Linked DNA regions of Homo sapiens: all the other regions are linked to region 2. The links come from fine-mapping of genetic effects on gene expression. A gene starts in region 2. Each other region holds a variant in brackets. All regions are shown on one strand. Distances are between the middles of the regions. Region 1 overlaps ACSM5 (acyl-CoA synthetase medium chain family member 5). Region 2 holds the start of ACSM5 (acyl-CoA synthetase medium chain family member 5). Region 3 overlaps ACSM5 (acyl-CoA synthetase medium chain family member 5).

Region 1 (6,590 bases), 28 kb before region 2:
GAAACCGTCTTTGGCAGTTCTGAAACAAAGGCCACCTAGTGACCAAACACAAAACAAAAAACACTTGGAAATCATCATTTCTCAAAAAGACTTTTGTTTTGAAAGAGACAATACTGTCTGCCTGTCCTTGGAAAGCGTCCCTGATTCAGGGTTTCCCCCTAAATGGCCAGAAGCAAAACAGCTGGAGCCTGGAGCACAGGATCATTTTGACAGCATTTGAGCACTACCTCTTGTATCTGATTTGTGGTAGGGATCAGGCTGTTCTTAGAGTAGGAACAAAATGTGCTTTGGGGAGAATCCAAGTGAAGAAATACAGAAAAAAGCTGAAGCAGCAGCCAGGGTTACAAGTTTCTCCATATCCCCAGTGCCTGGCACAGGGCCTGGCTCTGAGTGGGAGCCCAGGCAGAGCGTGCCCATCTGATTCCCAGATCACTGTGCCCTGGAAACCCTGATATTTACCTTCCTGGGGTATTTGTATGGAGCAGTCACCCTTTTCACATGCTCCTGGAGTTCCCGCGTTAGTGCCTCTGGGTCATGAGAGGAGTAGGCTGGAGTAAGGACTATAAATGCCTTTACCACCTGCAGGAAAACAAAATACCCAGAAAAGATCAGGCCTCGTATAACAACTCTTTTCTCCTTAAGTGAGGCTTGAATAAGTGCCTACATTTACCTTTGCACCATGAAAGTTCTACTAGTTTTTTTTGGGCACAGCCAATGACACAAACAACATCAATTTTTCTTTTGCTGGCCCTTCCAGGTGTGACTATTAGGAGGATTGACCTTTCTGGGATGATTTCAAACTCCTACCTCTTTCTCAAATTACTCCCCATACTTGGAATGACACCATTTGAAGCCAACATCGCTTCTCTTAAGAAGCAAATATTTTGGAGAAAAGAGGTTCATAAACTCCTAGGGCCATTTTCTTCCAGATTTTCCTAATGAGAAAGGTAGGTAGGCATGAGTTTGAACAGGTGGGATTGAGGAAAATGCAGGCACTTGCAAGGGGAACTAGGTCTTTGGGGGTCTGCGTGGATGAACATTTGCAATCAGCAGACCCTGAACTGCACCACTTCTGTTCCAGACATCCCGAGGGACATTCTGCATCTTGGGTCTCTCTGCCCACAACTTTCCTGCAGGCTGTCTTATGCCAGGCAGGAGGAAGTGTCCCAGACTCAAGCACAACAAACATAGTTTCTGTTAGGAATGGAAGGTCACTTGGATGCTTATTAATTCCAGCATTCCTATCTGTTAACAGTATTCTATTAAAGGGGTAGCTCACTGTCCTTGCATACTTCCCACAGGGAGGAAGGCCACTATCATTTCATGTTCAGACAGATATGCTTTTAGAAAGAGCTTCCTCTTACTCTTACTACTGTAACTACGAAACATTTGTTGGACACTTTTTTTTTTTTTTTTTTTTTTTTAAGACAGAGTCTCACCCTGTCGCCCAGGCTGGAGCTCAGTGAGGTGATCTCGGCTCACTGCAAGCTCTGCCTCCTGGGTTCACGCCATTCTCCTGCCTCAGCCTCCCGAGTAGCTGGGATTATAGGCGCCCACCGCCACGCCTGGCTAATTTTTAGTATTTTTAGTAGAGATGGGGTTTCACTGTGTTAGCCAGGATGATCTCGATCTCCTGACCTCGTGATCCACCCGCCTCGGCCTCCCAAAGTGCTGGGATTACAGACATGAGCCACCGTGTCCGGCTTATGTGTTGGGCACTTTCTACACACCAGACTCAGTTCTAAGCACCATACATGGATTAAGTTTGAGCACACAGCCATTTGTCACAGTCCCAGTTAACTCACGGCATGCAGAACTAGGCATACGTTTGAGGTATGATTTCTTCAGCACATCAATGGGACTCCACACCTCCCTTATTATACATTAATGGCTTTGGATTTTAGAGGGGAATCACTTGGCCAAGAATGGCTGGCTAAAATGCAGATTCTCTGGGCTGCATTCCCAGTAATCATGATTTGGTAAGTCTGACTTTAGGTCTACAAATCTATATTTTAAACAAGAATCTCAGATGATACAGTTGCAAGCAGTCCAAGAACCAGACTTTGAGAATCTCTCCTGTGGTCTTGATGCTTCTGAGAATGCAGGCTAATGTTGCACTAACTTTCAAAAGGTAACTGTTGTGCTTTAGGATTATGTTGGATGTAAGCCAGTGAAAAGTACCTAAGTCTGCCTGTTAGCTGATCTTTCCCATAATATGCATTCCTCTGGGACCCACAGAAAGATTTCTCCTAGCCGGGCACGGTGACTCACGCCTGTAATCCCAGCACTTTGGGAGCCGGGGTGGGTGGATCACCTAAGGTCAGGAGTTTAAGACCTCCAGCCTGGCCAACAAGGCAAAACCCTGTCTCTACTAAAAATACAAAAATTAGCCAGGTGTGGTGACATGTGCCTGTAATCCCAGCTACTGGGGGGGGTGCTGGGGCAGGAAGATCACTTGAACCTGGGAGGCGGAGGTTGCAGTGAGCCAAGATCATGCCACTGCACTTCAGCCTGGACAACACAGCAAGACTCCATCTCAAAAAAAAAAAAGGATTTCTCCTATGAAAGCCCAGCTTATTAAATTTGGCCCATCTTTCTGGTATATGTAGGTCATTTTGGATACATATTCTATCCCTCTTAGGTTACAGCCATCAGCAACTATTACTGGTGTGCTTGCTATGTCCTCATCTGCAAATAGAAAAGACTTTTTATTAGACAGGATGGATAACAGAGCCTGCACCTCCCCCAAGATCTCCTGCCCCATAGCCAGCCTCTCTGGGATGTAGTTGTGTCCATTTAAAAGCAAAGTGTTGGTGTTTTCCCATTATGTCCCTTTAGAGAGTAATTGTATCTCTAAAGACATGAAGGCAACGTGTGTCTGATGGTGGCATTTCAACTTTGTGGCACAAGGATGGAGGTGAAATACAGGACAATCTGAGCCTTCCTGCTTGTTCTGCTGGGTGCTAATAGGTACAGAAGCAGGAGGCCATGTTCTTGGGTGCACTGGTTACCTCTCCCCTGATGGGGTCTGGGCTGCTGACCACAGCCGACTCCAGGACAGCAGGATGCTCTGCCAGGGCACTTTCCACTTCAACAGGCCCGATCCGGTAGCTGGAAGGGAAAAACAAACTCTTCCAAGTGGGCTTCCCTCAACCCCCATGAAATTTCAAAGG[A/G]AGGAGGAAAGTGCAGACAGCTTGACCTTGAAGAATTGATCACATCGTCGTTTCTTCCCATGAACCAAAAGTAGCCATCCTTGTCCATGCGAGCTCGGTCCCCTGTGATGTAAAAGTCCCCTTGTTCTGATGCAGCTGTCTTCTCAGGATTGTCCTGAAAGACAAAGACAACCCGTGAAGGACCCTCTGGGAACAACTGCTAAGGCCAGTTACTGCCCCAGTAGCCCCCTGTAGGAAGCTGGAGACCACTCAACAGAAAGTTCAGCAGTTCCTAAAGTCCCGGCTGCCCAGAGTTCCCCAATGGACAGGGAGTTATGGCCCTGTTTAGTTGTGGGATTTCCCTCTTTTGATTGGAATCAAGCTGCCAGCCAATGGTTAAGGGCAGTCACCCACCACCATCCTTAGAAGGGGGTCTAGAAAGCATAGTTGAAAGCAGGAGGGTGGGCACAGGGCCACTGGCTGTGGTTTTTAGGACAAGAGAACACATGAATACTCTTTGTGCTCAGGAATCACTGAGGGTAGAAAGTGAAGGGCTAGGCCGGGTGTGGTGGCTCATCCCTATAATCCCAGCACTGTGGGAGGCTGAGGTGGGTGGATCACTTGAGGTCTGGAATTCGAGACCAGCTGGCCAACATAGTGAAAACCTGTCTCTACTAAAGACAAAAAAATTAGCTGGGTGTGGTGGTGCATGCCTGTAATTCCAGCTACTCGGGAGGCTGAGGCAGGCGAATTGCTTAAACCTGGGAGGCAGAGGTTGCAGTGAGCTGAGATTGTGCCACTGCACTCCAGCCTGGGCTATAGGGCGAGGCTGTGAGATTGCACCACTGCACTCAAGCCTGGGCTACAGGATGAGATTGCAAGATTGTGCCACTGCACTGCAGCCTGGGCTACAGGGCAAGACTTCAAGTAGGAAACAAAGGAAAGGAAGGGGAGGGGAGGGGACGGGAGGGGAGGGGAGAGGAGAGTGGGGAGGGAAGGGAAGGGAAGAGAAGGGAAGAGAAGGAAGAAAAGAAAGAGAGAAGAAAAGGGAGGGAGGAAAGGAGGAAGGGAGGGAGGGAAGAAGGAAAAGAAAGGAAGGAAGGAAAGAAAGAGAAAAAGAAAGAAAGAAAGAGAAAAGGAAGGAAGGAAGAAGAAGGAATGAAGGAAAAGAGAAAGAAAGAGAAAGAAAGAAAAAGAAAGAAAGAATGAAGAAAAAAGAAAGAAAGAGAAAGAAAAGAAAGAAAGAAAAAAGGAAGGAAGAAAGAAGGAAAGAAGGAAGGAAGGAAGGAAAGAAAAGAAAGAAAGAAAGAAAGGGAGGGTGGGAGAAGGGCTCACCAAAAAGCTCATTGGTGTGGGGCAAGAGTAGAGGAAAGAGAAAAACAATGAAACTCTGATTCTCAAAGTTTCAAAGAAAAAGCTACTACTCAGCAATAAAAATACATGAAACCACACAGATGACTTGCAGAAACATCATACTGAGTAAAAGAACCCAGACAGATAAACTGGAATAGTTTGTGATTCCATTTACATGAAGTTCTTTTTTAAAAATGCAAAATTATTATATACTGACGACAAACAATGTATCAATCGCTGGGTCTGGAGTGGAGAGGATTGCCTGTCAAGGGAGTGAAAAATGTTCCCTATTCGACTGTGGTGGCAGTTACACAGGGGCGGACATGTGTTAAAAGTCATTGACTTACACACTTAACGTGGGTGAATTTTACTGTAGGTAAATTATATCTCAATTCAACAAGGACCTTCTGAGAAAAAAGAAAAAATATAAGCTACCCTAAAAATACATCTAACACAAAATCTCTGAGATGTGTATGGAGAAAACTTAAAACTCTACACAACATTAAAGAAGATATAAATAAAGTGAAAGAAAGACTTAATCGGCCTGGTGCAGTGGCTCATGCCTATAATCCCAGCACTTCGGGAGGCCAAGGCAGGTGGATCACCTGAGGTCAGAAGTTCAAGACCAGCCTGGCCAACATGGAGAAACCCCATCTCTACTAAAAATACAAAAACTAGCCAGGTGTGGCGGCAGGCGCCTGTAATCCCAGCTACTTGGGAGGCTGAGGCAGGAGAATCACTTGAACCCGAGAGGCGGAGGCTGCAGTGAGCCAAGATCACACCACTGCACTCCAGCCTGGGTGACAGAGCAAGACTCTGCCTCAAAACAAAACAAAACAAAAAAGACTTAATTAATAGAGATGTCAATTATCCCTAAGTTGTTTTATAGGCAATACAATTCTAATCAAAATGCTAGCAAACATTTTCCAAGGAACTTGACAAGTTGATTCTAAAATACAAATGAATGAGCAAAGGGCTAAGAATAGGTAAAACACTTCTAAATGAGTTGAATAACAAGGTTAGAGTTGTTCTCCCACATGTGAAGACTTATGGTAATGCTTTTGTGGATAAGACTTTATGGTATCAGTACAGAGACAGAGTAAGTGATCAAGGAAATACAAGAAAGTGCCAAAGCCTATGTATGACTATATCAAACTTTTAAAAAATGATTTATTTATTTGAGATGGAGTCCCACTCTATTGCCCAGGCTGGAGTGCAGTGGTGTGATCTCAGCTCACTGCAACCTCTGCCTCCCGGGTTCAAGCAATTCTCCTGTCTCAGCCTCCCAAGTAGCTGGGACTACAGGTGCCCGCCACCACACCCAGCTAATTTTTGTATTTTTAGTAGAGAGGGTGTTTCACCATATTGGTCAGGCTGGTCTCGAACTCCTGACCTCAGGTGATCCACCAGCCTTGGCCTCCCAAAGTGCTAGGATTACAGTCGTGAGCAACCACACCTGGCCTATATTAAACTTTTATATCTGACAAAATTAGCATGACAGATAACTGGGAAAAGGAGGATTTATTCAACAAATTGGCTTTTCATATAGAAAAAAATAAAATAGACCCCTATCTCATATCATGCATACATCAACCACAGATGGATTATAAACTTAAATGTCAAAAGCAGAATTATAAAACTATTGGAAGAAACTATTGAATATGTGTATTTTCTACCCTAAAGTTGAAAATGATTTTATAAGACACAAAAAGCACTATCCATAACATTTAAAAACTTAATGATTTGATGACATGGAAATAAATGCTTCTGTTCAACAAAAATAGCTTAAAGAAAGTGAAAGAAAGTGAAAAGATAAGCTACAACCAAGGAGGAAGATGTTAGCAACTCTTAAAACAAACAAAGGACCGATATCAAGAATATATTAAGAACTCCTATAGGCTGGGAGTGGTGGCTCATGCCTGTAATCATAGCATTTTGGTGGGCTGAGGCAGGTGGATCACTTGAGCCCAGGAATTCAAAACCAGCCTAGGCAACATGGTGAAACCCCATCTTTACAAAAAAAAAAAAAAAAATTAGCCAGGTGTGGTGGCATGTGCCTGTAGTTCCAGCTACTCAGGAGGCTGA
Region 2 (11,412 bases):
ACTAACAGTCTTCATGATTCTTTAAAACAATACAGTCTCATCTGTCATACTCCTCCTTTCTTTTTGAGGTGTCGCTAGCAAAATCATTAATATCTGCATTTCTACTAACAGTCTGCTCAAGGCAATCTAGGCTTTTTTCCGTGCTCCTCAAAATTCTTCCAGCCTCTACCCATCACCTAATTCCAAACCTACTTTCACATCCTTTGGTATTTATTACAGCTCTCATTACTACTCTTGGTGCCAAAATCTGTATTGGTTTTGAATAATCCCATCTATTGCTGCTGTAATAAATTATCACAAACTTAATTGCATAAAACAACACAAATATACAGCCTTATAGTTCTGGAGATAAACAGTTCAAAATCAGTCTTAGTGGACTAACATCAAGGTGTCAGAAGAATTGTTTTCCTACTGGATGCTTTAGTGGAGAACCTGTGTCCTTGCATTTTCTAGTTTTCAGAGGCAATTCACATTCCTTGGATCGTGGCCCCACATCACTCCCACCTCTGTTTTCATTGTCACATCTCCTTCTCTGACTCTGACCCTCCTGCCTTCTCATAGGGTACCTTATGATTATATTAGGCTCATCCAGATAATCCAGAATAATCTCTTCATATGAATATCTTTAGTATAATCATGTTTGCAAAGTCTCTTGCCATGTAAGATAACATACTCACAGGTTTCAGGGATTAAGGTATAAAAATCTTGGGGAAGGGGTGCATTATTTTGATAACCATTGCCATGCTCTTTCTAGTTTCTTTGCGTATCTTGTAAATTTTTGTTGAAAACTATAAATTTAAAATTACATCATGTGATTACTCAGGAAATCAGATCCACCCCCACCCATTCCCCACAACTCCCCAGAGTTTGGTTTGCTGTTGCTGCTTGTTGTCATTTGTTTAGTGATTTTTGTGAACCATTTCTGTGAAGTCTGCATTATTTGTTCTGTGTGGCCACTGAGATATCTACTTGGTTAGCTTAGTAGTCATCTTATGATTAGACAGAAATATCTTTAAATGCCTGAAACCAATAAATCTCCCAGTCTTTGGGTGGGTGTTGGGGCACACCTTTAGCACTCAGCCAGGCAATTAACAATCCTGCCTTAGTGTTAATTTCCTGCATGCTCCAACTCTCAGTCTGCCAGAAGTGCGAGCTTAGAGTTTCCTCAGATCTTTTCTAAGCGTGTGCAAAGCCCTAGGAAAGCACACAGCCTTACTTAGGTGTGTTGATTTCTAGATTTCCAGGAATACAATAGAATTTTTTAAAGCTCCCATAGACATTGGATTCTCCAGCTTTTCTTTTTTCACTCTTTGGTGAATCTATTGTTTGTCCCACTGTTATCCATCACCTTAGGCAACAATGAAGCTAAAACATTTGTCTGTGATTGTTTTGGACAAAAACCCCCAGGGAAAAGGCTTTTCTCATTGGTTGAGCTTCAAGTTGATTCAAATACAGTTTTACAAGTAGGGTCTTCCAAAGAACCAATGGGCAGCTCAAATAACAACAGTTCTTCATAAGTGAAGCTTTGAAAAAACTCCAACTCCATTCTGGCCCATCTAATGGTTGCCGTGATGCACCAGAAATGGGGGCTGTTATTTTTCAAGGCTACCACATAGCTGGAAAGTCCTTATTCTACCATTTTTTTTCCTGACTTAATCCTGCTTGCTTGTTTTTATCATTAGGAGAAGTCTTCTAAGGATACCCCTAGTATTGCAAAAAGAACTTAGATTTTTGCAGGCCATCAGGAATGGAGCATCCTGGCTTCATGTCTTACATGCAATTCTCATTTAATTCTCACTATTACTCTAAGTAGCATATGGTCTGACTACCATTTTACAGATGAGAAAGTTGAGATCTAAAGAACTTAGGGCACTTGTCCAAGGTCACACTTCAAGTACACGGATGAACAATGTCTATCTGACTGCAAATCCTGCTTTTAAGTCTCAGTCATCCTCATACCACCTTCATAAGTTTCACTACATCTGCTGACAGTTAATTTTATTGTATCTACTAACAATGCCATTTACTTCATATTTTTTCTTTAAACAATCTCTTCTTATAATTAACATGAATACAATTCTTTGAATTAAATTTTATATTTCCAGTTTTGTATTCTCCAGCTTTTCTTTTTTCACTTTTTGGTGAATCTATTGTTTGTGCCTACTGTTATCCACCACCTTAGGCAACAATGAAGTTAAACATTTGTCCGTAATTGTTTTGGACAAAAACCCCTAGGGAAAAGGCTTTTCTCATTGGTTAAGCTTCACATTGGTTGAAATACAGTTTTAGAAGTATGTCTTCCTCTTATAAATGAAAAGTTAGTATCATGTAACACAAATAAAAGGTAACCATGAAATAGAGAGACCCAACAGACACAGATATAAGGGAAAATAAAGAAGAAAGCAGATGCACAGAGACACACAAAGAAATCAGGGTTATCTTATTCAATTCTATGTATCTGTTATGATCTGCAAAAAGCTTTGAGCCTGAGCCCTATTCTTTCCTTATTTTATTTTGTTTTGTTGTATTTTATTTTATTTTTTGAGGTGGAGTCTCACTCTGTTGTCTAGGCTGGAGTGCAGTGGCATGATCTTGGCTCACTGCAACCTCTGCCTCCCGAGTTCAAGCAATTCTCATGCTTCAGCCTCCAAAGTAGCTGGGACTACAGGTGTGCGCCACCATGCCTGGGTAATTTTTTTTTATTTTATTTTTAGTAGAGACGGAGTTTCACCATGTTGGTGAGGGTGGTCTCGAACTCCTGACCTCAGGTGATCTGCCCTTCTCGGTGTCCCAAAGTGCTGGGATTATGGTCATGAGCCACCGCGCCCGGCCTTCTTTCCTTATTTAGAAGAGAAGGGCGTGACAGTGAGAGAAAAACATCAAAGACAGAGTAGCAGCAAAACAAAACTTCCTCCTTCAGTTGATGAACAACTGGAAGGGAATCGGAAGGGACATAACTGTCTCACTGTGTGATTTGGGCTCAAGAATGCAGGACACTTCAGAGAAGGAACAAGCATGTCTAAGGCTCACAACACTGACTCAGAATTTTTTCCTAAGTCTCAAATGCCAACAGTTTACATTTTAGAACTAGCAAAATTCCCAGGTCCAAATTTCCTCATCAACATGCTTGGAGCCTTGAGTCTCATTGTGGTACATGAGGGCAGCCTCAGATGCCCCAGATGGACTCTAGGACAGAACAGGCTTCACCTCTTCCAGCCGACTCCACACATCCAGCACATCATGGGCGAAGTTGAAGTACTCAGGCACCAGCTGCCTTCCCAGGCTGATGGCTTCCCAGGTGGCCACGATCTTCTGAGGAACAGGTAGAGGTGCTGGCTTCCCATGAGACCCACAGAATGCCCTGGAGTTCCTCAGTGCCTGGAGGACTAGGTGTCTCAGCCATGGTCTCATGCAGTCGCCTCCTGTCTGTCACCAAAGAGAGGAAAGAGGGCATTGTCATAAATTCTGGGCTTTGGGGACAACACATAGGTTAGGAGAAACCTGTGGTTAGTGCTGATGGTGACTGTGATCCTTACTGACTTGTAGAATAAACTCTCCACCTTCAGTCTCAGTTCTGCTGTGTGATGGTCATTTCTCTCCTCTGACCCCGAGGTCTGTCCTTTTGACCTCTCACTGACTTGTGGGTATCTGGGTCTGAGGTCAGAACTCAGATCCCACTTCTCAAACCTCAATACTTCAAAAGGAATCCCTCAAAAAGGCTTTGGCCAATCCTGAACTGACCTTGCAAAGCTGAAGACAGCTCTAGGGCAGCACTGTCCAACAGAAATAGAACGTGAGCCACCTGTGCAATTTACAATGTTCTAGTACTTCCATTAAGAAAAGTAGAAGCAGGTGAGATTTATTATAATAAAACATTTTATTTAACCAGATAGAGCCAAAGTATGACCATTTCAATTCCTAGTCAATAGAAGAATAAATTGTTAAAGAGATATTTTACATACTTTTATTTATTTTTTGTTTTTTTTGGTACTAAGTCCTCACAATCTGAAATAGACTTTACCCTTACAAACACATGTCAATTTGGACTAGCCACACTTCAAGTGCTCAAAAGCCACAAGTGGCTGCTGTATGGCATGATGGGCTTTTAGTGTCTTTTTAATTTTTTTATTTAATTTTATTATTTTTAAAATTTTTATTATTGTTGTTTTTGAGACAGAGTCTCACTCTGCTGCCCAGGCTAGAGTACGGTGGTGCCATCATAGCTCACTGCAGCCTCAAACTCAAGCAGTCCTTCCACCCCAGGCTTCCTAGTAGCTGGGACTACAGGCACTAGCCACCATGTGTGGCTAACTTTTAAAAAGTTTTTTTGTAGAAACAGGATCTCACTATGTTGCCCAGGCAGGGCTTGAACCCCTGGCCTCAAGTGATCCTCCCAACTCGGCCTCCCAAGTGCTGGGATTACAGATGTGAGCCACTGTGCCCAGCCCAGTTTTAGTGTCTTGCTACTCAAAGTGTGATCTTGGGACCAGCAGATGGGACCCCACCCTACATATGTAGAATTAGAATCTGCAAGTTAACGGGATCTTCAGATGAGTCATATGCATGTTAAAGTTTGAGAGGCACTGGCCCGGGAGCTGCGTGTGACCTCAGTTTCAGTTTCCTTGCATTAAATTCCTCTTAGTAATAATAATAACAAAATATGGTAATAACAACCAACAATAATAACGTGGCACAACAAGAAAAACCATAACAGCTTCAGTCTATTGAAGGCCTACTGTGTACCAAGCATTTTAAGAGTGCTTAGAGGCATTATTTCATGAAATCTTTATAACAACTCTATGCTGTAAATGTTATTTTCTCCATTTAAAGATAAAGAAAATGAGGCTTAAAGGGGAAAAGTGACTTTCAGGTTTCACTTCCTGGAAAAACATAGGCCCCAGCCTCTGCAGTGGCCACCAGGCCTAGGCCTGCAGCCTCAGAGACTTCCTTTCTCTGACCCACCTCTCCCGCCCCTCACCTCTCCCGCCCCTCACCTCTCCCGCCCCTCACCTCTCCCGCCCCTCACCTCTCCTGAACTGAGCTCTGCCCCAGTCCTTTTCCTCAGTCTCCCACCCCTGGATTCCTCAGCCACCTAAACAGCTGATAATTTAGAATCCCCAGGCCTCCTTCCCATTCCCCGACACCATTTCAGATGTCACTTCTTGATTTAATCAGCAAAGGCCTCAGAGGCAGCTGATACCTTCGTCTGAAAAATTTCTTTCCAAATTACCTTGCTCTTGAACCAAAGTAATGCAAAAGGTCTCTGTTTTCTGCTTCAGCTGAGCAGAGCAGGGCTGAGTGGCTGTAAACACTCAGCTCCCTCAGAAAACAGCCTCCCACAGGGAACTTCAGCCCCAAATGCAGCCAAGAGTGGGCAGAGCCAGAACCCAGCAGCTGACACAGTGGCTTCCAGTGGTCAGGGTGCATTGAGCCAGTGAGAGTGGCCCCCTGCCAAGTTTTCTCAGTACTCACAGTGGCTGGAAGATCAGACCTCAACTGTCGTGCCTGGTGGGTGTGCCCAAACTGGTGGATGTATTCCCTAAAAATTCAAGTCGCCATCTAATCGGAAAAAGCAACAGGAAGATTATGACGGGTTTTTTTTTTTGTTTGTTTGTTTGTTTTGAGACGGAGTCTCCCTCTGTGGCCCAGGCTGGAGTGCAGTGGCGCGATCTTGGCTCACCCCAAGCTCTACCTCCCGGGTTTGCGCCATTCTCCTGCCTCAGGCTCCCGAGTAGCTGGGACTACAGGCGCCCACCACCATGCCCGGCTAATTTTTTGTATTTTTTAGTAGAGACGGGGTTTCACCGTGTTAGCCAGGACGGTCTCGATCTCCTGACCTCGTGATCCGCCCGCCTCGGCCTCCCAAAGTGCTGGGATTATGATGTTTTAACAGAAAAGGTGCAATAGTGATAATAATATAAGTCAGACTTTGTTTCTTTTCTGCTTAGAACCCTCCAGTAGATACAGAGAGAACAGAGGAGTGGTTCCAGGGAACGGCTCTAAGGCATCCCTTTGAAGTCATAGAATTGTTCTAAATTTGGATTGTGGTCATGACTGCAGATCTCTGTAAATTTACTACAAAAAATAGTAATAATAATTGTACACTGCCAAAAGAAGTTTTTTGGGTTTTTTTGTTTGTTTTTGGAGACAGGCTCTTGCTCTGTCGCCCAGGCTGGAGTGCAGTGGCGCAATCTTGGCTCACTGCAACCTCCACCTCCCGGGTTCAAGCGATCCTCCCACCTCAACCTCCCGAGTAGCGGGGAATATAGGCATGCACCACCATGCCTGGCTAATTTTTGTATTTTTTTGGTAGAGATGGGGTTTCAACATGTTGGCCAGGTTGGTCTCAAATTCCTGACCTTAAGTGATCTGCCTGCTTTGGCCTCCCAAAGTGCTGGGATTATAGGTGGGAGCCACTGCACCTGGCCCAAAGGTGGTTTTTCGAAAAAGCTTCCTGCAACTCCCTATCTCACTCACAGTCCAAGCCAAAGTCCTGACGATTGCCGGGTGGGATGGCTCACGCCTGTAATCCCAACACTTTGGGAGGCCAAGGCGGGCGGATCACGAGGTCTGAAGATTGAGACCATCCTGACTAACACGGCGAAACCCTGTCTCTACTAAAAATACAAAAATTAGTCAGGCGTGGTGGCGCCTGTAGTCCCAGCTACTCTGGTGGGCGCCTGTAGTCCCAGCTACTCTGGAGGCTGAGGCAGGAGAATGGCATGAACCTGGGAGGCACAGGTTGCAGTGAGCCGAGATCGTGCCACTGCACTCCAGCCTGGGAGACAGAGTGAGACTCCGTCTCAAAAAAAAAAAAAAAGTCCTGGCAATTGCCTACAGGGCCCCACAGGAATTCCTGTGAGCCTTTCGCCTCAAACCTCCTGTCTCAGTCTGCTCCAGCCATACCGGTCTTTTTGTTGTTTGTTCTCTGAAGTTCTTTTTAAATTATTTTTAATTTTTGTGGGTACATAGTAGGTATATACATTTATGGGTTACATGAGATATTTTGATACAGGCATGCAATGCGTTAGAATCACATCAGGGTAAATGGGGTGTCCATCACCTCAAACATTTATCCTTTGTGTTACAAACAATCCATTTATACTATTGTAGTTATTTTAGGTGTATGGTTACATTATTTTTGAAGATAGTCATCCTATTGTGCTAGGAAATACTAGGCCTTATTCATTCACTCTTACTACTTTTTTGTACCCATTAACCATCCCCACTTCTCCTCCAACTCCCTGCAACACTTTCCAGCCTCTGGTAACCGTCCTTCTACTGTCTCCATGAGTTCATTTGTTTTCCTGTTTAGCTCCCACAGGTAAGCGAGAATGTGCAATGTTTGCTTTCTATGCCTGGCTTACTTCCCTTAATGTAATGACTTCCAGTTCCATCCATGTTGTTGCAAATGACAGGGTTATGGGTGTCCTATAGAGAGGATGCTGAGCCATTAACTGCCTATCTTTGCAGTGATTCAAACTTCACCCTGGATTTTTATCCATCACTGTATGTTGTTCCCCTGTGACTCTGTCTCATTTCCTGGCCTGGCCAGTTTGGCCCATTTCCACGCAGGCAGCTCCTCTCCCTTGCCGCCAAGCTTGGCCACAGGGAACCATCTTATGAGCCCTCAATGTCCATTTGCTCAGCATTCAGTCCTCTACTGCGACCCAGGATACAACCTCATCTCTGAATCTGCAGCCAGATGTAAAGATACAATCTCTACCCTCAGAGGGGTGGACGGACTGTTGAACATTATTTCTCCAGCAGTCTAATCTCAATATCGTTACTCTCAATCAGTACTTTTTAGAAGAATATATAATCATAAGTCATGACAAATGTTTCATAAATGTTCAATGAAAGAACTGGATACACTTTATAGACAATATAATCACAATTTTATTTTTAAAAAGTATATATTAATCCCATACGTAACAAAATATGAATGTTTCTCTAAGTAAGATGATGTATGATTTCAATTAACTCATTTTTTCTGTATGTTCTATGTTTTAGAAATTAAATCCTGTTCTTTTCTAATCAGAAAGAAATTAATGTTATTTTATAAAAAGAAGCTTTAAGCCGGGCACAGTGGCTCACGCCTGTAATCCCAGCACTTTGGGAGGCCGAGGTAGGTGGATCACCTGAGGTCAGGCGTTTGAGACCAGTTTGGCCAAAATGGTGAAACCTCGTCTCTACTAAAAATACAAAAATTAGCCGGCCGTGGTGGTGCATGCCTGTAATCCCAGTTACTCAGGAGGCTGAGGCAGGAGAATTACTTGAACTCAGGAGGCGGAGGTTGCAGTGAGCCAAGATTGCACCACTGCACCCCAGCCTGGGCAAGAGAGCAAGACTCTGTCAAAAAAAAAAAAAGCAGCAGCAGCTTTATCAGTAAATGAGTATCATCATAAAAGTGCCTATGTTATGTCAAGAAACAACTGTGTGCAAGAGTGAAGGAAAATGAATGAAGGACATTTGGGATAATAACCCAAGTGTTTTAGTTTGTGACTAACAGTTGACAAGTGTGAAAGATGTCAAAATAATATATGCCAGACTAGATTGTTGATTTAGGCCTGGGAGAAAAAAGAGTCAAACACATCCCAGGAATTATTTGCAAACACAACATCCAGAAAAGGAATAATTGCCAAGAAAAGTTGAAAGGGACATGATGAGTTCAAATTAAGACATTCAGATATTCAGTGAGTGTGGTTCAACCAAAAAGAGCTTTTCTAATAGGCAGATGGAAAACGGTCTTAATAGTAAATGTAATCAATTGATCAAATCCTGGAGAGTAAATGAGAGAGTAACTTATAAAGGGGTGTATTTGAAGTCATGCATTTAAACAAGCCAACAAAAGTATGGAAGTTAAGTATGGAAAGAGAAGAGTGGGGCCGCATGCCGTGGCTCACGCCTGTAATCCCAGCACTTTGGGAGGCCGAGGCAGGCAGATCATTTGAGGTCAGGAGTTTGAGACCGACCTGGCCAATGTGGTGAAACCCCGTCTCTACTAAAAATACAAAAATTAGCCAGACGTGGTGGTGCATGCCTGTAGTCCCAGCTACTCAGGAGGCTGAGGCAGGAGAACCGCTTGAACCCTGGAGGTGAAGGCTACAGTGAGTGGAGATCGCGCCACTACACTGTCTCAAAGAAAAAGAAAAGAAAGAGAAGAGCAAAGCGCTAGGACTAAAACCCACAGATGTTAAAATTTAGTGAAATGAATGTTAGTCATCTCCATCAGTATTTAATAACAGTTGGGCAGCAGATAGCCAAAGGCTGCAAACTCTGACAGTAATAACGATGCTAATAATATCAACAGCCTTTTCTTTATTCATTCAACAAATATTTACTGAGCACCTATCACCAGGTAAGCAAAGTAAATTATGTGGAGTTTAGAAGAAAATTAATGCTATGAAGGAAAATAAAGCCTGGAAGGAGGATGAGGAACGCCTGAGAGGGGGATGGGGCACTTACAAATTTAAACAAAGTGGCCAGGAAAGGCCCAACTGTGGAAGTGACATTTGGGCAAAGACTGGAACGAGCTAAGGGGTGAACCCTGAGTCCACCTGGGTGAAGAGCCTCCCTAACAGGGGAAACCACAAGTGTAGAGGCCCAGACATTGTATTGGAGGACTGGCAGGGACACCAGTGTGGCTGGAGCAGGGTGAGTGGAGATCTTTCTCCCCTAGGAGATGAGGCCAGGGTGGTGATGCGTGAGGGGCTCCTGCCTTCTAGGTACTGAGCTGCTCGTTTTGCATAAATCCTCTTATTTTATCCCATCCCCCTCTCAGGCGTTCCTCATCATCCTTCCAGGTTTTATTTTTCTTCATATCATTAATTATCTTCTAAATTCCACATAATTTACTTTGCTTACAACACCCCCATGAGTTAGATGCCATGTAACAGGCATGGAAACTGAACCTCAGAAAGAGTAAGTGACATTCTCAAGGCCATACAGCTGTTCAAGACAGAGCTGGGATTCAAATTCCAATCTATAGGCACTGAGTTCAGAGCCCTCCTGGGCCATACCCAGCACCCCACACTGAGTTTTGTTTCTAGCCCCTCAAGCAAACTCAGCAAGGGCTGCCAGGCAGGGCCCCCTCTTACTCAACAATGGCCCATTCTTCTACAGGGTCACCCCTGGTCCTCTAGAACCCCAGAACTCAGAACTTTGCTGCTGAGGCTGCTGTGGCCTCTGTGTGCCCAGGAAGGGACTTCATTTCTGCCTGTGGATTCTTTAGAATGCCCAGTCGTCTGCGGGTCCTGCCCTGATCACAAGGAGAAGCCAGGAGCCTCCTCTTCAGGCTACAACCTTCCTTCTTAAGGGCCACAGAGTTTGTGGCCCCACCCCCAGCACAGCCCCACCTTGGCCCCAGGAACCCTGGGAGTGGCCTTGGCTTCCTGCAGGTATGAGCTTCAGTGAAAATGGGAAATCTGACTGATGGGCCCTGCCTTGGGAGGCTTTTCTCTACCAGGAGTCACCAGTTTAAGTTTTAAGTGTCAGTTTTGGTGTATAGATGGCTACACATTAGGATCAACTTGAGGATTTTAAAAAATAATAATAATGCCCAGACTCACCCAACCCCAGATCAATTAAATTAGAACCTACTGGGTTTGGGTTTGAACATCAGTATTTTTTATTAAACTCTCCAAGAGATTCTCAGCATAGTCATGGTTGAGAACCACTGAAATGAACCAATGGGGTTTGCTGTAAGAGTTAAATTAGGCCATTCATTCATTCATTCAACAAACATTCATTGAGTTCCAAATCTGGTACAGGCACTGTTCTGAAGGGGAGAAAACAGCTGTGAACAATGGTATTTACATTAAAAAGTTCAAAATGACAACAACAACAAAGTACACTCATAAATAATAATACAAAATATGATGCAAACAATGGTGATATGGCAGAGAGTGCTGAAAGCTGAGATGGGGTGAGACAGAGTGGCCCGGGAAGACCCTTCTGATGAGCGTGGATTCGAGCTAGGACCCAGAGAACCAGAAAAGGCTGACGATGTGAGGGAAGGGTGCCCCAGACAGAGGCAAAGGCCCCGGGTAGGGTGTGCTTGGGAAAGGGAAGAGGCCAGTGTGGCTCCCCAGAGTGCGGGAGGAGAGAGAGAGAGGAGGGCGATAAGGTCAGATGGGTCCAGAGCCAGTGGGGCCTGGTAGACCACAGAGAACAGTTTGGCTGGTGTGCGGTTTTGCGAATGGATTGTAAAAAAAAAAGAGGCAGAAGCTTTTTTTTGCACAAAAGTGAGCACCTTTTGATAGGCACAGTGGTGTGATGGAATTCCTGTGTCGAAAGGAAATCTCTGCTGGGCACGGTGGCTCACGCCTGCAATCTCAGCACTTTGGGAGGCCCAGGCAGGTGGATCACCTGAGGTCAGGAGTTTGAGACCAGCCTGGCCAACATGGTGAA
Region 3 (11,412 bases), 18 kb before region 2:
AGTGAGAAGACACTGTCACAAAAAAAAAAAAAAAAAAAAAAAAAAGAATGATCTGGAAAGAAAACTAACTGTTGGTACAGGTGACGGAAAGAAACAGTCAAAAAAACTAGATTGTTGTCTAGCAAATAACTTTTCAAATTACTTTAGTACACTCAGTGGAACAATCTCACAACCAGAAAGAAAGTGTACAAGTGCAGTAAGTACCAGAGTCCTGCTCCACACTAAGTACCAGAGTCCTGCTCCACACCGAGCGGCACGAAGTCGACAATAAATAATGAATGAATGCATTTTTTCAGTGGGGTCAAAGATTTACTATTGCTTCCAAGACTGATTAGCAGAAAATACATTAAATGTTAACATGATCTCAGCTTGGCATGATTACTATGTTGTGGGATTTTGTAAGTTTCTGTGATTTTAAACAAAATAAAGTAGAAGATTATTTCTCTTGTAGTGACAGAAAAACCACTAAAATGCAACATTTTGAAAAGAAATGGACTGATTTATTTCTGCTCCTTCTAATTCTGTAGCTGATTGACAGCTTAGTAGACACATGAGATGGCATTTCTATTAAGCAGTGGCTCTCAGGCTTGACATTCGAATCGCCTGGGAAACTGATCCACACCAACAGAAATGTTGATTTTAATTAAGCTGAGGTGGGGCTCAAGCATCAGCAATAACTGAGGCTTGCCAGGTGTTTCTAATGCACAGCCAGGTCTGAGAGTTTTATAGAGAAAGCTGTGAAGAAAAGAAAGCCCGACATAAACACCACCCAAGATGAATACAAAAGAGAAGCAGTTACTGAATTATCCCAGAAACTTGGACTGAAATCCCAGGTTTGTGCCCTGCTAGCAAACCACAAAGAGAATCCTGAAGACAGCTCTGACACAATAGTGCAGTTTGACCTTTATGTATTTATTTATTTTATTATTATTATTATTTTTTTTTTTTGATACGGAGTCTCGTTCCCTCACCCAGGCTGGAGGGCAGTGGAATGATCCTGGCTCACGGCAACCTCCCTGGTTCAAGCAATTCTCCTGTCTCAGCCTCCCAAGTAGCTGGGAATAGAGGCGTGCGCCACCATGCCTGGCTGATTTTTGTATTTTTGGTAGAAACGGGGTTTCACTATGCTGACCAGGCTGGTGTTGAACTCCTGACCTCAGGTGATCCACCTGCCTCGGCCTCTGAAAGTGCTGAGATTACAGATGTGAGCCACTGCACCCGGCTGCAGTTTGACCTTCAGAAGCTCCTTTCCTTTACTGTACCTCGATTTTCACCTCATTAAAACAACAGTGCTGCCCTCATGTCATGTTTACGCTTTCAGACACACCCACATTTAAATCCCATGTCCTGCCTGTACTATTTGCATGATGCTGGATAAGTCACTTCCCCTTTGTAGTAGCTTCCTTATCAATAATAGTCTTCCTTATCAATAACAGAACTTTATTAATAATAGTAGCAACCTACCTCATGCAGTCATTGTAAGGATTAAACAAATAGATATTTACAAAGTGTGGTGCACAATGCTTAGCACACAGTCACTGTCATGAGAACGGCTGTTCCCCGTCTCTTACCAAATAGCAATTGAAGAAACAGAAGGGCCGAGTGGGTCTGATACGGACGGCAACATTCCCCTCTTCTCCAGGAGGCAGGACGTTGCCCTCATCATCCACAATCTGGTAAGGAAATCATCACAGAGGTGCATACGTGAGTGTCTACACCCTGGGCCTCTCCCAGCAGCCCAGCAGCCCGTGCCAACCAGGCCTGTGTGTCTTTCTCCTCTCCATGCCAGGCCTTGCCAGAAGTTGGGGGAGGCTGCTACCTGCACATCGTAGGGTGGGGACGCCTTCCCCATGGATCCAGACTTGATTTTCATGCCTTTTGGATTGGCACAGATGACAACCTGGGGAGAACGCAGTACAGATAAAGAAGAGCCTTTCCACTTAGCTTCTTTCCTGGGCCATGCCTTTCTCTCACCCTGCCTGATAACTCTTTCTCTCATCCTCTTTTTTCTCCTCCCTCACTTTCTTCTTTCTTTCCCTTCTCCTCTCTCCATTTCTCTCCATTCTTCCTCCCTTCTTTCTTTTCTTTTTTCTTCCTTGCTCACTCCTTCCTTTCCTCTTTCTTTCCTTTCTTTCCCCTTTCCTGTTTTCTTCCTTCCCTCCTTCATTTTCTTTCCTCCTTTTTTTCATTCTTTTCCCCGTTATTTCATTCTCCATTTTCCTCTCTCCTCCCTTCTTCTTTGTTCCCTATTTCCTTCCTTCCATTCATCTTTTTCCCTTCCTTTCCTCCTTCTTTTCCTTTCTCTTTCCTTTATTTCCTCCCTCCCTTCCTTCTTCATTTTCTTCCTATTTTCTTCCCTCTTTCTTGCCTGTCTTTCTTCTTTTCTTTCCATAGTTAACAAACAATTATGGGGCACTCCAGTGGGCACTCAAACATAAAGAACTTAACCCATCTCTAAGCCAAAAGACTCAGTTGATCCCCAGATCTCTTCCTAGATGACTATAGAGGACGCTGCTTAGAATCTTGGACTCTGAACAGTGGCAGATGTAGACTGTCTTGGTGGAGACAAACAATGCCTTCAGCAGTGAGGGCTGGTTTGCTGGTCATGGTATAATTGTAAAAGTACTTTAAATTACCTTTTTTTAATTTATAAGTAGTGTGTGTGTGTGTGTGTGTGTGTGTGTGTGTGTGTATTTCAATAGCTTTTTGGGTTCGAGCGTTTTTTTGTAACATGGATGAATTCTATAGTGGTGAATCCTGAGATTTTAGTGCATCTGTAAGCTGAGTAGTGTACATTATACCCAATACGTAGTTTTTTTACCTTCACGCCCCTCCTCTCACCTTCTTCCTTCTGAGTCTCCAAAGTCTTTTATACCACTCTGTATGTCTTTGCATCCTCATAGCTTAGCTCCCACTTATAAGTGAGAACATATGGAAATC[A/C]AAAGGGAAGGAAAGCTGATGGAATTTTGTTATCAGCTTCTCCCCTGGGGGAAGGGTGGTCCCTGAGAAGCTTCAGGGAGGTGACAGCCGGAGAGGCAGGAAGCTCTCGAGGGGACCTGGGGGGTAGGGACCTGGCCCCTCCAGCACTCACCGTTTCAGACTGGCCATAGCCTTCGTACAGCTCCACACCAGTCTGGTGTTTCCACTTCTCCCTCACGTCAGGGTTGAGGGCCTCTCCTCCGGTCAGACAGTGCCTCAGGCTCTGAAACTGGTACCTTTCTCAGACAGGAAAACAAGGCCACCTATGTCAGGATCTTCATATCACCCCGCCCTCTGGTGCCACTGCCCAGATGCAAACACCACAGGCACTAGAGGGTAGATGCCCCTGCTTTTTAATCTTCTCTAAGTGAGTCCACCCACTGGCTTTGCAACCATGCTCCTCATGGACAGATAATTTTTAAAAGATCCATCCTATCTGAGTTTGAGATAAAATCAGAAGCTCATATAATAGGTTTTGGCATAATATGGTGAGTTCCAGGTAACTTGGCCAAAATAATTTAGTTGGAAAAAAACTGATAATAAATTGGTTAGGACAGTAATCTGATTGAAAAGGATAGATGAATTAGAAATTGAAAAGATAGGCCAGGCACCATGGCTCACACCTGTAGTCCCAGCACTTTGGGAGGCCTAGGTGGGCAGATTGCTTGATCTCAGGAGTTGAAGACCAGCCTGGTCAACGTGGTAAAACCCCGTCTCTACCGAAAAATACTAAAAATTAGCTGGGTATGGTGGCACATGCCTGTAGTCCCAGCTACTTGGAATGTTGAAGTGGGAGGAAAGCTGGAACCTGGGAGGCAGATGTTGCAGTGAGCTGAGATCATGCCACTGCACTCCAGCCTGGGCAACAGAGCAAGACTCTGTCTCTAAAATAAATAAATAAATAAAAATAAAAGAAAAAGGAAAAGAAAGGAAAGAAAAGAAAATGGAAAAGATAAAAATTAGACCCCTAAGAATCCCAAAAATTCCTACAGATATTAATTATGTTGCAAAATGCCCTCTCTGTTCAACAAATCATCCAAATTATAAAAAAGAACAGTGACTGCAAGTACATTTTTAATCTTGGAGGAGAGGGGAGATCAAATTGGCTTGATTAAGTTACTTATTATTACCAAAGAGCATTCAACGACATTGTTCTTAACGAGGTACTTGGAGCTTGCTTTCAGCCAAAATCATCATGTGGAGATGCACACATCAGATCAATGAATGGGATGATTTTCTTACATTGGAGAAGAATTCACTTTTAGAAGCATGTAAGAACTCCCTTTTTTGGACACTTGGTGGGTAGATTCATGTGATTAGGAAAGATGAGAGGACGACTCCTCATGACTTACGGGAGGACAAAAGAGGGAGAACAGGTCAGGGTTGGTGGATACTGAAGGACAGTGGGCCTCTCTCCATATACCCCAGCAACCAGCCCTGTTCTGCTAGAAGATGTTGCTTTGGCTTCACCCAGGATGGAGCCATCATCAGTGCCTTGTCCCTTTCTCTTGGGTGCCCAATGGCATGTGCTCAGAGAACAGTTGGCTGGGGTTAGTCTGAGGCTGAGAGTTGGGGCATCTACTGCGGTGCGGGCTTGTTAGTTTCACCACACCTGAGGGCCCTGGCCACAGACCCCACTCCACAGGTGGCTAACAATTTTCCAATCATTTCTCTCGCCTCACAGAAGTAGCAGACACACTGCTGACAGAATAGCCCATGGGTGTATGGTGTGAGGAGAAGCCTATCTCAGGTGCTAAAATTTCAGTCTGCCTTAAATCTATTTAGTTCCATCTGGATGCAAATTTTGGGGGGCCAGAAGCTTGTTCTTGAGGGGCATCTGTGAGATTTACAGGTATGTTGACTTGTCAATGTGTACGTGTATAAATGTGTGTGTGAGAGAGAGACAAAGAGAGAGGCAGAAAAATATATAGAGGGAGAGACAGAGAAAGAAAGAGAGTTGGAATGAGAGGGTAGTTGTGTGTGTGGATACCCATGCTATATATTCACATACTTAGGCCCTCAAAGCACGAAATAGACGGGCTGTACCTGGTCAGATCCTCCTGCACAAGCAGCCGAAAGATGGTTGGGACACAGCAGAGGGTGGTTATCGGGAATTTGGAGAGAGTCTAAACAAAAACAAAGGGTGAAAGATGTCCTTAGAATCATTGGGGTGGGACCATGAAGATGGAGCCAAATGCATCTTTATAGTCTCAGTACCAAAGCAGAGAAGCTGAAAACTATGTGTGGAATCCAGCAGCCAAGATGGTGTCCAGTGACTCCTACTTCCTGGCATGTGCACCTTTGGAGGATCCCCTCTCACCTCATACCAAAGTGGGTCTGTGACAGCAATGGCATACTGCCAAGGTGATGAATACCACTTTCAAGATTCGGTTATACAAAGACTATGGCTTCTGTCTTGGATATTCTTTCTCTCTGCCTTTCTTGGATCCCTTGTTCTGGGGGAAGCAAGCCACCATGTTTTGAGTATGCTCAAGCCATCCTACGGACAGGTGCACACAGTGAGAAACTGGAGACTAGCAAACACCCAGTGAGAAATTGAAGTCTACTAAAAACCACCAGTGAGGTTTTTGTTTTGTTTTTTGTTTGGTTTTTTGAGATGGAGTCTCACTCTGTCACCCAGGCTGGAGTGCAGTGGCAAGATCTCAGCTCACTGCAACCTCTGCCTCCCGGGTTCAAGCAATTCTCTGCCTCAGACCCCTGAGTAGCTGGGATTACAGGTGCCCACCACCAGGCCCGGCTAATTTTTGTATTTTTAGTAGAAACGGGGTTTCACCATCCTGGCCAGGCTGGTCTTTAACTCCTGACCTCATGATTCACCCGCCTTGGCCTCCCAAAGTGCTGGGATTACAGGTATGAACCACTGTGCCCGGCCACCAGTGAACTTTTAAGCAATTTTCCAGCTTCAGTCAATCCTTAAGATGATTGCAGTCCTAGCAAATATCTTCTTTAAAATTATTGTGGCAAAATACACACAACATAGGATTTGCCCATTGGAACGGTTTTTAAGTGTATAGTCCAGTGGGATTAAACATTTCCAGAGTGTTGTGCAACCATCGCTACCATCCACCTCCAGAACTATTTTTATCTTCTCAAACTTAAACTCTGTACCCATTACACAATAATTTCCCATTAATCTCTCCCCTAACTCCTGGTAAACACCATTGTACTTTCTGTCTCTATGAATTTGACTACTCTTGGAATCTCATGTAAGTGGAATCATACAGTATTTGTCCTTGTATGACTGGCATGTTTCACTTAGCATAATGTCCTCAAGGGTTATCCACGTTATATCATACAACAAGATGTCCTTCCTTTTTAAGGCTGGGTAATATTCCATTGTACATATACACCACATTTTGTTTATTCATTCATCTGTGGATGGACACTTGTGTTGCTTTCACCTTTTAGTTATTGTTAATGCTGCTATGAACATGAGCATACCTTGCTGACCTCTTGATTGCAACCTCATGAGAGACCCTGCTCCAAAAACCCCTCATTAAGCTACCTCCAGCTTCCTGACCATCAGAAACTGTGAGATAAATGCTTGTGTTTTAAAGTGCTAAGTTTCGGTATAATTTATTACATAGCAATAGATAATGAAAACACTATATCAGAGCTGGGGACAGTGCAAGGAGAAGGTCCATACATTGGCTGATCAAGCACTACATGGATAATGATGGTGATGAGTTTGATCATGATGATAACAATCAATATGGGTTAAGAATCTACTATATTTGGTCCACCATGTGATACCAGCTTACTCCTGCAAGAATGGCCATAATCAAAATATCAAAAAATAATAGATGTTGGCATGGATGCAGTGAACAAGGAACACTTCTACATTGCTGGTAGGAATGTAAACTAGTACAACCACTGTGGAAAACAGTGTGGAGATTCCTTAAAGAACTAAAAGTAGAACTACCATTTGATCCAGCAATCCCACTTCTGGGCATCTATCCAGAAGAAAAGAAGTCATATGAAAAAGATACTTGCACATACATGTTTATAGCAGCACAGTTTGCAATTGCAAAAATGTGGAACAAACCCAAATGCCCATAAATCAACAGGTGGGCAAAGAAAGTGTGGTATATAAATATATATAATGGAATACAACTCAGCCATAAAAAGGAATGAATTAATGGCATTCGCAGGGACCTGGATGAGATTGTAGACTATTATTCTAAGTAAAGTAACTCAGAAATGGAAAACCAAATATTTTATGTTCTCCCTCATAAGTGGGAGCTAAGCTATGAGGATGCAAAGGTGTAAGAATGGCACAATGGACTTTGGGGACTTGGGGAAAATGGTGGGAAGGGGGTGAGGGATAAAAGACTACAAATTGGGTGCAGTGTATACTGCTCAGGTGATGGGTGCACCAAAATCTTACAATCACCACTAAAGAACTTACTCATGTAATCAAACACCACCTGTTCCCCAATAACCTATGAAAATAATTTTTTTTTAAAAAAAGAATCTACTATGTTTTGAAGCAACCTAAGTGTCCATCAACAGATGAATGGAAAAAGAAGATGTACATATACACAATGGATCCATAAAAAAGAATGAGGTCCTGTCATTTGCTGCAACATGGATGGAACTGGAGATCATTATGTTAAGTGAAATAAGCCAGGCACATAAAGACTAACTTCACATATTCTCACTTATTTGTGAGATTTAAAAGTCAAAACAATTGAACTCATGGAAATAGAGATTAGAAGGATGATTACCAGAGGCTGGGAAGGGTAGTCGGGGGCTGGGAGAAAGGTGGGGATGGTTAGTTGGTACCAAAATAATAGAATGAATGAATAAGACCTGTTATTTTAAAGCACATCAGGGTGACTATAGTCAATAAAAACTTAATTGTACATTTTAAAATAACTGAAAGAGTATAATTAGATTGTAACACAAAAGATAAATGCTTTGAGGGTATGGATACCCCATTCTCTATGATGTGATTTTCACGCATTGCATGCCTACATCAAAACATCTCATGTACCCCATAAATATATACACCTACTATGTATCCACAAAAATTAAAAATTATTTCAAAAAAGAACCTATGATGTGCTGGCCCCTTTGCCTTGTATCATTTCATTCTCGCAGCAAATCTATAGAGAAATGTATCCCTTTCTTACAGATGAGGCTGAAACTGCAGCTCAGGAGATTAAGCAGCTTCCCCAAGGCCACACAGCTAGCGAATCAAAGGTGTAGGATCAGAGTCCAGGTCTGACTCTTTGACTGATGGCACAGCCTATGCAGTTAGCTACCATGTGATACAGCTTATCTCAGTACAAATAATATGAGCAGAAGTGTCCTCTGACATTTTAAGGAATGACAGGATGTGGGGGGTGGAAGAAAGGTGACCTGTGTCTTGACTGGGGCCACCAATCTCCTCCCTCCCCATGAGAAGACCCTGAGAGGCTGAGCAGGAGTCACCAGGACTCTCTAGTTGGGCCAACTACTCATGTTAAGAACCATGGACAGTAGCATTTGGAGTTGAGGCATAGACTGATTTTGCCTAAGGGTTTGACAAATACCTAGGGTTTTGGCAGGAGCATAGGGAAGAAAGTGGTGGAAACAAGGGCACCCCATGCAAAAGAAATAGCAACAAAATGGTCTTACATCTAGGAATGTAGCTAGAGCATAGGCAATGATTGAAGGGAACCAGGTGGTCAGGAACCAGATTATGGAAGGCCAGGGAGCCACACCAAAGAAGCCTTAAATTCACTGATTTATGTGTTTTCTCCTGCAGTCTGAAATCTATATCCCACTCATCTCATTTGTACCCAACACATATGGGGTATTGTTGGTTTTTCCTCTTACATTCAGGATAACTTTGGCATCAACTCGGGGCAGCTCATGCACAAAAATGCAAGATCCATTAGGCCAGGCAGAGAAGAGAGTCCAGGCTGCCTTCACCCAGCCAGTGTCAGTCGTGTTCCAGAAGATGTCAGATTCGGTCAAGGCCACCCACCGTCTGCCAAAAATTAGAGAACGTCAGTAACCTTGGCAATGACTCTACCTTTAAAAAGGATTGTATTATCTATATCACCACATTTGGAGCCCTGCTCAGTGGGTACTCACTTATACTTGTGAAACCTGAACAAGACCATCAAGTCAACTATTGTCTCAACCAGCATCTTCCATGTACCTATGCCCTAGGCTAAGAATACAGAAGCAAAAAGAGTTTCCAGAAAGTTCACAGTCCAGTGGATGTGATATATAAGGGGAAAAAATTAACCTCAATACTCTGTGCTAAGGTCACTTTATTTAGCCAACATTTATTTAGCATTTAGTCTGGACTTAGCACTAGGGATCTAGAAATGAACGATTAGTCTTGCTTTGAGGGCCTTATAGGAAGCCCCTGGAGAGCATGTTTTAATAGAGCTAAACACAAAGCCTTGTGCAATTATAGAGAATAGGCACCTAACCCAGAGCAATGATGGACATGGGTTTCTGAGAAATGCTCTGGTAGAGGAAGTGACACTTGAGTTAGACATAAAGAATAAATAGGGATTATATAGGTGAGGCAGAGAAGCAGGAGCATCCCAGGAATGGGAAACAGTGTCTGCAAACATGGAAGACATAAAAAGCGGTCATGCACTTGAATCCTGGGACACGCGCACTCCTGGTTCTCCCCATTTCATTGGCTGTTCCCTTCTCAGTCTCCTCTGCTGAGTCCTCCTGGTCTTCCCCTTCAGTGCAGAAATGCCTCGGGCACTCAGTCCTGAGACCCATTCTCTTTTCAGTTTATATTACACTTTGCTGATCTCATCCCATCTCATGGTATGAAATACCATCTTTACACTGATAAGTTCAGCATGAATCTTTCTCATTAACTTCAGACATGTGTATCCAAATGCCCACTCAACATCTCCACTTTTAACAAGGAGATGGAGATTTCTAAGAAGACTCTCAAATTGACAACTCCATAAACAAACTGTTTTCTTGCCACCAGACAGCTCATCCCACAGTTCTTCCCCCATCATTTAGTGCTTCCAGTTGTTCAGGCCATTCCTCTTAGAGCTCTCCTTGACTCCTCCTTCTCATTCCACACTGATTCTGTCAGCAAGCCTTATTGGGTCTAGGTTGAAAATACATTCAGAATCTCATCTCTTCTCCCACTACTGCTCCCCGGGCAAGCTACCATGCTTGCCTCTTAATGCACTGGTCATCTTCTTTACCTGTTTCCCCTACAGTTACATTGTCAACCCAACATCCTGAGTGAGCCTTTAAAAAACATATTAGATTATGTCACTCCTCTGCTCAAAATACCCAATGCTTCTCAAAAAAAATTAAACATAGAATTACCATATGATCCAGCAATTTCATTTCTGCATGTATATCCAAAAGAAGTAAAAGCAGAGACTCTAACAGATACTCACATGCCAGTGTTTATAGCAACATTATTGACAATAGCCAAAATGTGGAAGCTACCCAAGTGTCTATCAACAGGTGAATGGATTATTTAAAATGTGGTCGAGGCCAGGTGCAGTGGCTCATGCCTGTAATCCCAGCACTTTGAGAGGCCAAGGCGTGAGGATCATGAGGTCAGGAGTTCGAGACCAGCCTGGCCAACATGGTGAAACCCGGTCTCTACTAAAAATACAAAAATTAGCTGGGTGTGGTGGCGGGCACCTGTAACCCCAGCTATCTGGGAGGCTGAGGCAGGAGAATTGCTTGAAACTGGAAGGCAGAGGTTGCAGTGAGTGGAGATCGCACCACTGCACACCAGCCTGGGCAAAAGAGCAAAACTCTGTCTCAAAAAAATAAAAATAAAATAAAAAATAAAAATAAATAAAATGTGGTCTATCCATACAATGGAATATTTTTCAGTCTTAAAAGGGAAGGAAATTTTGACACATGCTATGACACGGATGAACCTTGAGGACATTATGCTAAGTGAAAGAAGCCAAATTGCAAAACAAAAGGACAGACTGCATGATGCCAGTTACACGAAATACCTAGAGTATCAAATTCACAGAGATGAAAAGTAAAATAGAGGTTACCAGGGGTGAGGGGAGAGGGTAATGGGGTGTTATTGGGTAATGGGGGCACAGTTCTCATTTGGAAAGATAAAGTAAATTCTGGAAATGGATGGTGATTGTGGTTGCACAACAATGTGAATGTATTTAATGACATTAAACTGTACACTTAAAATGGTTAAAAGGGTACATTTATGATATATGTATATATATGTTTATATGTGTATGTATGTATATATATGTGTGTGTGTATATATATATATATATATATATATATATATATATATATATAGCCACGATTTAAAAAGAAACCTCCCATGGCTTTTCACCTCACTCAGAGTAAAATCCAGAACCATCAAGATCCTTCCTAAGCTGCTCCTATTGGCTTCTCAGTAATTCTGTTGGCTCTCTGACCTCCGTTCCTGAC

The links.
Region 1: its variant is fine-mapped to the expression of ACSM5 in lung (TOPMed, PIP above 0.99).
Region 3: its variant is fine-mapped to the expression of ACSM5 in lung (TOPMed, PIP 0.93).

The regions. Positions count from the first base shown.
Region 1 is chr16:20,433,789-20,440,378 of GRCh38, reverse strand. It overlaps ACSM5 (acyl-CoA synthetase medium chain family member 5), which reads right to left. Exons shown (of 14, transcript NM_017888.3): 11 at 3,200-3,327; 12 at 3,012-3,111; 13 at 460-579; 14 at 1-35. Among named protein-coding and RNA genes, the nearest start is that of ACSM2A, 14 kb to the left of the region's middle. The variant A/G (reference allele first, on the strand shown) is at 3,174.
Region 2 is chr16:20,403,484-20,414,895 of GRCh38, reverse strand. It overlaps ACSM5 (acyl-CoA synthetase medium chain family member 5), which reads right to left and starts at 5,362. Exons shown (of 14, transcript NM_017888.3): 1 at 5,231-5,362; 2 at 3,208-3,426. The coding sequence starts at 3,411. PDILT (protein disulfide isomerase like, testis expressed) reads left to right here and starts at 10,159. Exons shown (of 12, transcript NM_174924.2): 1 at 10,159-10,400.
Region 3 is chr16:20,421,481-20,432,892 of GRCh38, reverse strand. It overlaps ACSM5 (acyl-CoA synthetase medium chain family member 5), which reads right to left. Exons shown (of 14, transcript NM_017888.3): 6 at 8,824-8,977; 7 at 5,026-5,105; 8 at 3,092-3,215; 9 at 1,820-1,900; 10 at 1,572-1,673. Among named protein-coding and RNA genes, the nearest start is that of ACSM5, 18 kb to the right of the region's middle. The variant A/C (reference allele first, on the strand shown) is at 2,941.